2 separate regions of the Homo sapiens genome follow, and region 1 is linked to region 2. Evidence: fine-mapped expression QTL. A gene starts in region 2. The other region holds a variant in brackets. All regions are shown on one strand. Distances are between the middles of the regions.

Evidence for each region. PIP is the estimated chance that this variant, and not a neighbour inherited with it, causes the effect. A credible set is the group of variants that fine-mapping cannot tell apart.
Region 1: its variant is the best candidate, but not a certain one, in a credible set for the expression of BDNF in left ventricle (GTEx, PIP 0.55).

Annotation. Positions count from the first base shown.
Region 1 is chr11:27,653,144-27,657,665 of GRCh38, reverse strand. BDNF (brain derived neurotrophic factor) reads left to right here. Exons shown (of 2, transcript NM_001709.5): 2 at 1-2,773. All of the region lies in intron 3 of BDNF-AS (BDNF antisense RNA), which reads right to left. Among named protein-coding and RNA genes, the nearest start is that of LINC00678, 21 kb to the right of the region's middle. The variant G/A (reference allele first, on the strand shown) is at 2,172.
Region 2 is chr11:27,698,434-27,702,433 of GRCh38, reverse strand. It overlaps BDNF (brain derived neurotrophic factor), which reads left to right and starts at 1,979. Exons shown (of 2, transcript NM_001709.5): 1 at 1,979-2,270.

The DNA of each region.
Region 1 (4,522 bases), 45 kb after region 2:
TATTGGACATGTCCATGACCAGAAGGGAAACAGTCATTTGCGCACAACTTAAAAAGTCTGCATTACATTCCTTGATAATGTTGTGGTTTGTTGCCGTTGCCAAGAACTGAAAACATAAAAAGTTAAAAAAAATAATAAATTGCATGCTGCTTTAATTGTGAATTGATAATAAACTGTCCTCTTTCAGAAAACAGAAAAAAAACACACACACACACAACAAAAATTTGAACCAAAACATTCCGTTTACATTTTAGACAGTAAGTATCTTCGTTCTTGTTAGTACTATATCTGTTTTACTGCTTTTAACTTCTGATAGCGTTGGAATTAAAACAATGTCAAGGTGCTGTTGTCATTGCTTTACTGGCTTAGGGGATGGGGGATGGGGGGTATATTTTTGTTTGTTTTGTGTTTTTTTTTCGTTTGTTTGTTTTGTTTTTTAGTTCCCACAGGGAGTAGAGATGGGGAAAGAATTCCTACAATATATATTCTGGCTGATAAAAGATACATTTGTATGTTGTGAAGATGTTTGCAATATCGATCAGATGACTAGAAAGTGAATAAAAATTAAGGCAACTGAACAAAAAAATGCTCACACTCCACATCCCGTGATGCACCTCCCAGGCCCCGCTCATTCTTTGGGCGTTGGTCAGAGTAAGCTGCTTTTGACGGAAGGACCTATGTTTGCTCAGAACACATTCTTTCCCCCCCTCCCCCTCTGGTCTCCTCTTTGTTTTGTTTTAAGGAAGAAAAATCAGTTGCGCGTTCTGAAATATTTTACCACTGCTGTGAACAAGTGAACACATTGTGTCACATCATGACACTCGTATAAGCATGGAGAACAGTGATTTTTTTTTAGAACAGAAAACAACAAAAAATAACCCCAAAATGAAGATTATTTTTTATGAGGAGTGAACATTTGGGTAAATCATGGCTAAGCTTAAAAAAAACTCATGGTGAGGCTTAACAATGTCTTGTAAGCAAAAGGTAGAGCCCTGTATCAACCCAGAAACACCTAGATCAGAACAGGAATCCACATTGCCAGTGACATGAGACTGAACAGCCAAATGGAGGCTATGTGGAGTTGGCATTGCATTTACCGGCAGTGCGGGAGGAATTTCTGAGTGGCCATCCCAAGGTCTAGGTGGAGGTGGGGCATGGTATTTGAGACATTCCAAAACGAAGGCCTCTGAAGGACCCTTCAGAGGTGGCTCTGGAATGACATGTGTCAAGCTGCTTGGACCTCGTGCTTTAAGTGCCTACATTATCTAACTGTGCTCAAGAGGTTCTCGACTGGAGGACCACACTCAAGCCGACTTATGCCCACCATCCCACCTCTGGATAATTTTGCATAAAATTGGATTAGCCTGGAGCAGGTTGGGAGCCAAATGTGGCATTTGTGATCATGAGATTGATGCAATGAGATAGAAGATGTTTGCTACCTGAACACTTATTGCTTTGAAACTAGACTTGAGGAAACCAGGGTTTATCTTTTGAGAACTTTTGGTAAGGGAAAAGGGAACAGGAAAAGAAACCCCAAACTCAGGCCGAATGATCAAGGGGACCCATAGGAAATCTTGTCCAGAGACAAGACTTCGGGAAGGTGTCTGGACATTCAGAACACCAAGACTTGAAGGTGCCTTGCTCAATGGAAGAGGCCAGGACAGAGCTGACAAAATTTTGCTCCCCAGTGAAGGCCACAGCAACCTTCTGCCCATCCTGTCTGTTCATGGAGAGGGTCCCTGCCTCACCTCTGCCATTTTGGGTTAGGAGAAGTCAAGTTGGGAGCCTGAAATAGTGGTTCTTGGAAAAATGGATCCCCAGTGAAAACTAGAGCTCTAAGCCCATTCAGCCCATTTCACACCTGAAAATGTTAGTGATCACCACTTGGACCAGCATCCTTAAGTATCAGAAAGCCCCAAGCAATTGCTGCATCTTAGTAGGGTGAGGGATAAGCAAAAGAGGATGTTCACCATAACCCAGGAATGAAGATACCATCAGCAAAGAATTTCAATTTGTTCAGTCTTTCATTTAGAGCTAGTCTTTCACAGTACCATCTGAATACCTCTTTGAAAGAAGGAAGACTTTACGTAGTGTAGATTTGTTTTGTGTTGTTTGAAAATATTATCTTTGTAATTATTTTTAATATGTAAGGAATGCTTGGAATATCTGCT[G/A]TATGTCAACTTTATGCAGCTTCCTTTTGAGGGACAAATTTAAAACAAACAACCCCCCATCACAAACTTAAAGGATTGCAAGGGCCAGATCTGTTAAGTGGTTTCATAGGAGACACATCCAGCAATTGTGTGGTCAGTGGCTCTTTTACCCAATAAGATACATCACAGTCACATGCTTGATGGTTTATGTTGACCTAAGATTTATTTTGTTAAAATCTCTCTCTGTTGTGTTCGTTCTTGTTCTGTTTTGTTTTGTTTTTTAAAGTCTTGCTGTGGTCTCTTTGTGGCAGAAGTGTTTCATGCATGGCAGCAGGCCTGTTGCTTTTTTATGGCGATTCCCATTGAAAATGTAAGTAAATGTCTGTGGCCTTGTTCTCTCTATGGTAAAGATATTATTCACCATGTAAAACAAAAAACAATATTTATTGTATTTTAGTATATTTATATAATTATGTTATTGAAAAAAATTGGCATTAAAACTTAACCGCATCAGAAGCCTATTGTAAATACAAGTTCTATTTAAGTGTACTAATTAACATATAATATATGTTTTAAATATAGAATTTTTAATGTTTTTAAATATATTTTCAAAGTACATAAAATCTGGGGGTTCTGGGTTTTTTTCTCTTTACTGTAAAACAAACATGAAAACGTGTTTTATTATAAATACGTGTGTTCCTTGCTTTAAGACTAATCTGACTAGTTTTAGTAATTAAACAGCCCTCCAGAGAGGATACTTATTTGAAAGCCTGGGAGGCCAATCCTGCAGTCTGTGAGCTTCTGAGAAGTTGTAGGATTGGATCTGTCTTCCATGGTGGAAGATGGGAGTGTCATTTTCTCGGACACTTGAAAGTTTTACCCCTTTGAAGTGATATACTTTCATCAGATACCAAACCATGTATCCTAGCAACATCAGGATCCACGAATCACGGCTGGCTGGCTGGCTCTATTTGACTATAAAATAACTGTTAAAAAAAATCAAAGTAGGTTTACTTAGGGATAATGAGAATAAATTGGCCCAAATTTAGAAAGTCAAGTACTGGGGAAAAAAGTAAAAAAAGAAATTCAATATTTGGAGACAGGTCACATATCCTCGGTTTGGAAGTGGTGCCATTTGCAGTATGTATTTGTATCCATAGCACTGATTTAATTTTTGTACGTGGAGCACACAGATTTTATATCATAGTACCCACAATCTAACAGATTGCTAGGATTTCTAAAAGGATTTGCCTCCGTGATGGCTGCCAAGCCGCTGGGTAATTTAGTTAAAGTGTTTAAAGTTATCACTAAATCTTAGGGAAATAAATGGAAGGATTTTAAATCAGAGAAGGGGCCATTAAGGAAAAAAAGCATCTGTTCTTACTCTTCAGCCTCCCCATTTGAACACTGACAACCCATCCCATAACGTGGTGAACTATATCTGTGCAATGTATCATTTCTATTTCTAAACATACACACATGGTTTCCTCTTGTATTGTCTTATAAATAAGGATCAGGAAAGTCATAACAAACATTGACTTGTGTTGTGTATATGGAAAAACAGATCGAATGAGATGAATTACTCTATCCTAATCTGTCCAGTGAACTTGAAAAGTACTCTAAGAGAAGCCCTTGACTGCCAGTCATGACAGCCCAGCCATGGACTTAGAACTTTGATAAACTTCAGGCTTGACCAATTTTCATAGTCAGAGGACTAAAATATTTTTTAAATGGTTGAGTAAAAAAAGTAAAAATTAAACATGACATCCAAATTACTTGAAGTTAAACGAGTTTGGTAAACATGACTGAAAGTTTTCATTAGAAGATGAGGTTGGAGAAAAAAACAAAATAGAGACATCTACTAAATTATCCTACTTGGAGTTAATAGGAGTAACCAATGTGTACTGCATTCATTGAGTAAGCAGTTAAACTTGTTTAATTACTAAGATGCCAGGAAATAACTCAGATCATTGCTTTGATCTGTTGTTTTTCACCATACTGATAAGCCTCTGTGGTCATTAGCTGTGTCTATGAAATCTTTTTATGAGCTGTACTAATTCAGTGAATAATAAGACAGTTCGAAATGAGAATCTGAACTAAGTCTTAGAATGGGTCAGTGTTAAATTGTTCCTCATTCATTTAAGTGACTTCTAGATCTGGATAAAATGTCAAACACTTTTTGAACTGCAACAAATGGCTTCAGGCATTGCCTCAGTTCAGCCAGCACTCCCAATAGTGTTAAGGTTTAAGGTTATTGTAAAACATACTTGTCTCCATCATGTTCTAACATCAAGCCTGGTCTACAAGTTAAAGTAGAAATGGCTGCATATTTTGATAAGCCATTGTTAAATAAAGACTGTTAATTGGGATAA
Region 2 (4,000 bases):
TTCCTCTGATACCCAGTGTTGTACCCCCAAGAGAGTGTTTCTCAAAGTGTGACTTCAGATTGTCTGCATTCGAATTGCTTGTGGTATTTATTAAAATTATAACTCCTGGGCCCTGCCCCACCCCTACTAAATCACAATTTCAGGAGGAGGGACCTTCATTTTAACACTCACCCAGGTGATTTTTATGCTCCGAGGAGGTCCAGGGACTCCAAGTTAAGTACGGTACTGCTGTCTTATTCTTTATTCTAAATTTTAAGGTCTGCACAAATTGGTTGAACTAATGAGAAGAAAATTCAGCTTTAAAGCAGAAACACAGGTAGACGGTTGACAGAGTTCATCAAATGGATAATTGAAAATGTCCTCTGGACCCTAGCCATATAAGTTCTCTTCAAGGGTCTTGGCTACAGGCAAATGAGAACCCGAAAGGCTATTTGCTCTTTTGCTGCGGGCAGTGGTGGGGGTGGAGGGCGGGGGAGGATTAACTGAGCCAGTTCTGCCCCCACCCTCGAATCACCTACCCCCACTCTGGTTAAAGCAGAAGACTTTTTATTTATCTTGGCTGCCCTGGTTCGTTATTAAAAGGGTTAGCTTATACGTGTGTTTGCTGGGGCTGGAAGTGAAAACATCTGCAAAAGCATGCAATGCCCTGGAACGGAACTCTTCTAATAAAAGATGTATCATTTTAAATGCGCTGAATTTTGATTCTGGTAATTCGTGCACTAGAGTGTCTATTTCGAGGCAGCGGAGGTATCATATGACAGCGCACGTCAAGGCACCGTGGAGCCCTCTCGTGGACTCCCACCCACTTTCCCATTCACCGCGGAGAGGGCTGCTCTCGCTGCCGCTCCCCCCGGCGAACTAGCATGAAATCTCCCTGCCTCTGCCGAGATCAAATGGAGCTTCTCGCTGATGGGGTGCGAGTATTACCTCCGCCATGCAATTTCCACTATCAATAATTTAACTTCTTTGCTGCAGAACAGAAGGAGTACATACCGGGCACCAAAGACTCGCGCCCCCTCCCCCCTTTAATTAAGCGAAGGGAACGTGAAAAAATAATAGAGTGTGGGAGTTTTGGGGCCGAAGTCTTTCCCGGAGCAGCTGCCTTGATGGTTACTTTGACAAGTAGTGACTGAAAAGGTGGGTTTGTTTTCTTTCTTTCTCTTTCCGTTTTTCTGTTTGGTCGGCTAGAAAGCGTGTGGCTTTAGCGAGGTCTGTCATTGCCTGGGCTTCCTGGCTGGAACAAGTAACTTGGTGTAACGTTATCTGGGGGCGTTCATCAATAAAAAATGCTGTTATTATCTTGATTGAATTCCTATTAGGCAAACTCTAGAGAGGTCAGTGCGCGAACTCTGTTTAAGCCGGCGTGTTTAAGGCAGCAGAGTAAACCAATAGCCCCCATGCTCTGTGCGATTTCATTGTGTGCTCGCGTTCGCAAGCTCCGTAGTGCAGGAAGGTGCGGGAAGGTGTGTCTGTGGCCCGGGAAACGCACGCCCTCTCCCAGAGAACTTGGGTGCTGGGATGGGGAGGAAGGGGAGAGTTGAAAGCTAGGGGAGCGAGACCTCGGGGCGTGCGATTCTCACTCGCTCCCTCCCGCCCCAGCGCCCACAGCCGGGGTTTCTGCAGAGGGCGCGGGACGCGGGGTTCCCCGGGGCTGAGGCTGGGGCTGGAACACCCCTCGAAGCCGCGGGCGTCCTGTCCAAGGCGCCCCAGGAGGGCGCAGGACTCGCAGGGCGATGTCGCGGGGCCCTAGGGGAGGAGGTGAGGACAGGCCCCGGGGGAGCGGGGAGTTCCGGGCGCCCCTCGGTTCCCCGCGCGAGGAAAAGACGCGGCGTTCCCTTTAAGCGGCCGCCTCGAACGGGTATCGGTAGCGCGGGCGAGCGGGGAGCGGGGGGCGGGGGGCGGGGGGGGGGGGGCGGCGCCGTTTGACCAATCGAAGCTCAACCGAAGAGCTAAATAATGTCTGACCCGGGCGCAAGGCGCAGCCTGGAGCTCCGGGTCCCCGACGCTGCCGCCGCCGCGCCCGGGCGCACCCGCCCGCTCGCTGTCCCGCGCACCCCGTAGCGCCTCGGGCTCCCGGGCCGGACAGAGGAGCCAGCCCGGTGCGCCCCTCCACCTCCTGCTCGGGGGGCTTTAATGAGACACCCACCGCTGCTGTGGGGCCGGCGGGGAGCAGCACCGCGACGGGGACCGGGGCTGGGCGCTGGAGCCAGAATCGGAACCACGATGTGACTCCGCCGCCGGGGACCCGTGAGGTTTGTGTGGACCCCGAGGTAGGCAAGCGCTGGGAATGGGGCTTGGTGCAGGAGCTGCCCGTCCGCGGGAGAGAGTTGACTGGGGGATCCCCCACCCCAAAGTTGTGGGACGAGGCCAGTCTCCTTCTTTCCTCCCCTCCGGTAGAAGGGACGATTTGGAGTTACTCTTGGGGAGTTTTCTCCCCCATCCCACAACCCAGAAGGTCAGCCGGCACCACCAGGGAAAAAGGGACCCGGGGAAGTCACGAAGTAGAGGAGGGAAGGCCTGGAGGAGACCCAGAGCTGCGTGATGGGAGCAAAGACGGCGACCCGGGGATCCCTCGCAGCCCTCCCCCAGCCCAGGAGTAGTCGAGAGAGACTTAGGGGGCCAGAGCTGTCGAGGGTCCTGACTGAGGGGAGGGTGCTGGGGCTAGGCTAGGAATCCTTCCAGGGGGTGGGTGGTCCCCGCGCCGACTTGCGGGGGGAGTGGGAGGGAAGCTTGCGCCTTCAGCCCGCATCCCTTCCCCGGAGCTGCACACGGCTACCTGCTCCCCAGGAATTGAGACTGAAGTGGACTTACAAGTCCGAAGCCAATGTAGCTTGGAAAACTTGGGAGGCGGAATTCCTACCGCTGGGAACTGAAAGGGTCTGCGACACTCTCGGGCAGGCCGAACCCACATCTCTACCCATCCTGCGCCCCTCTTCTGAAGCGCCCTCCAGGGAAGTTAAGAGTTTTGACTTTCGGGGAGTGGTTGGGATGTACGTGGGGGATTCTTGACTCGGGTTAGTCTCTGGGGATGCAGAGCCGGGAAGAGGAATGGGTGAGTGAGTTACTCCTGGAAAGAAATAGCTGAGGATTGGGGGCTCTGTGCCTGACGGGCAAGAAGAAGGGGAGATTACAGACTAGGGGCATCCCTAAGGAAGAAGCCTCGGGGCTGCGAGGGTGAACTGGAGGATGCAGTGTTTGTGTGTTGGGGGTAGAGCGGGGATGAGGGACCGGGGTGGAGGGGAGGCGAGGAGGAGGAGGGGACCCAGAGAACGAAGCTAGGGAAGGTAGAGGGTGCCCTCTGCCGGCCATGCTGCCAAGAGCAGCTACTGGGGGCGGGAGGCTGGGGGTGGGGAAGTGGTAAAGGAAGGTTTTGCGGGATCCCTTAGAGAGCTGGTAGGAGGGACTTGTTGAATGGTGCTGCTGACTCCAGCTCGGTGGGGCGTGCGACTCGTCGTCGGTGGATTTTGACTCCTCGTTCTTGTTTGGCTTCTATGCAAGTTTTCCTCGCGCTGGGGGAGCTTTGATAAGCCTCGATTGGCGGTGTGTTAGGGCTTCTTGGATCTTATTTTAGGGTCCTCTAGTTATCCTGCACTTACTCCTTAATGTCAGTAGCAACCAAAGAACATTTTCCGACAAGCACGCAGGAATGTTCTTGGCCAGAAGCAAAGAAAGGCATATTTCTGAGTGTTTATTAATCCTCCTAGTAATCTTTTAAAGCAAAGTAATATGTAATTGGGAACGTTGATTTTCTAACTGCATATAAAAGGCGACATGATATTAAATGAGACCCCTCCCTACTGACTCAATATCCTGCAAAATCTCTCTCTCCCCTTTATTATTATGGAAAAATCTATTTTTATATGAGTTTGTTGTAAGGTCAAAAGCCATTTTGGTCTTACAATTTGATATGTCTTTACATTTTAACTTATTGAGGCATAATTACAGATTTAATTTGTATGAACGTGTGTGCCTTCAATGCTTATCTCATGCAACATAATTT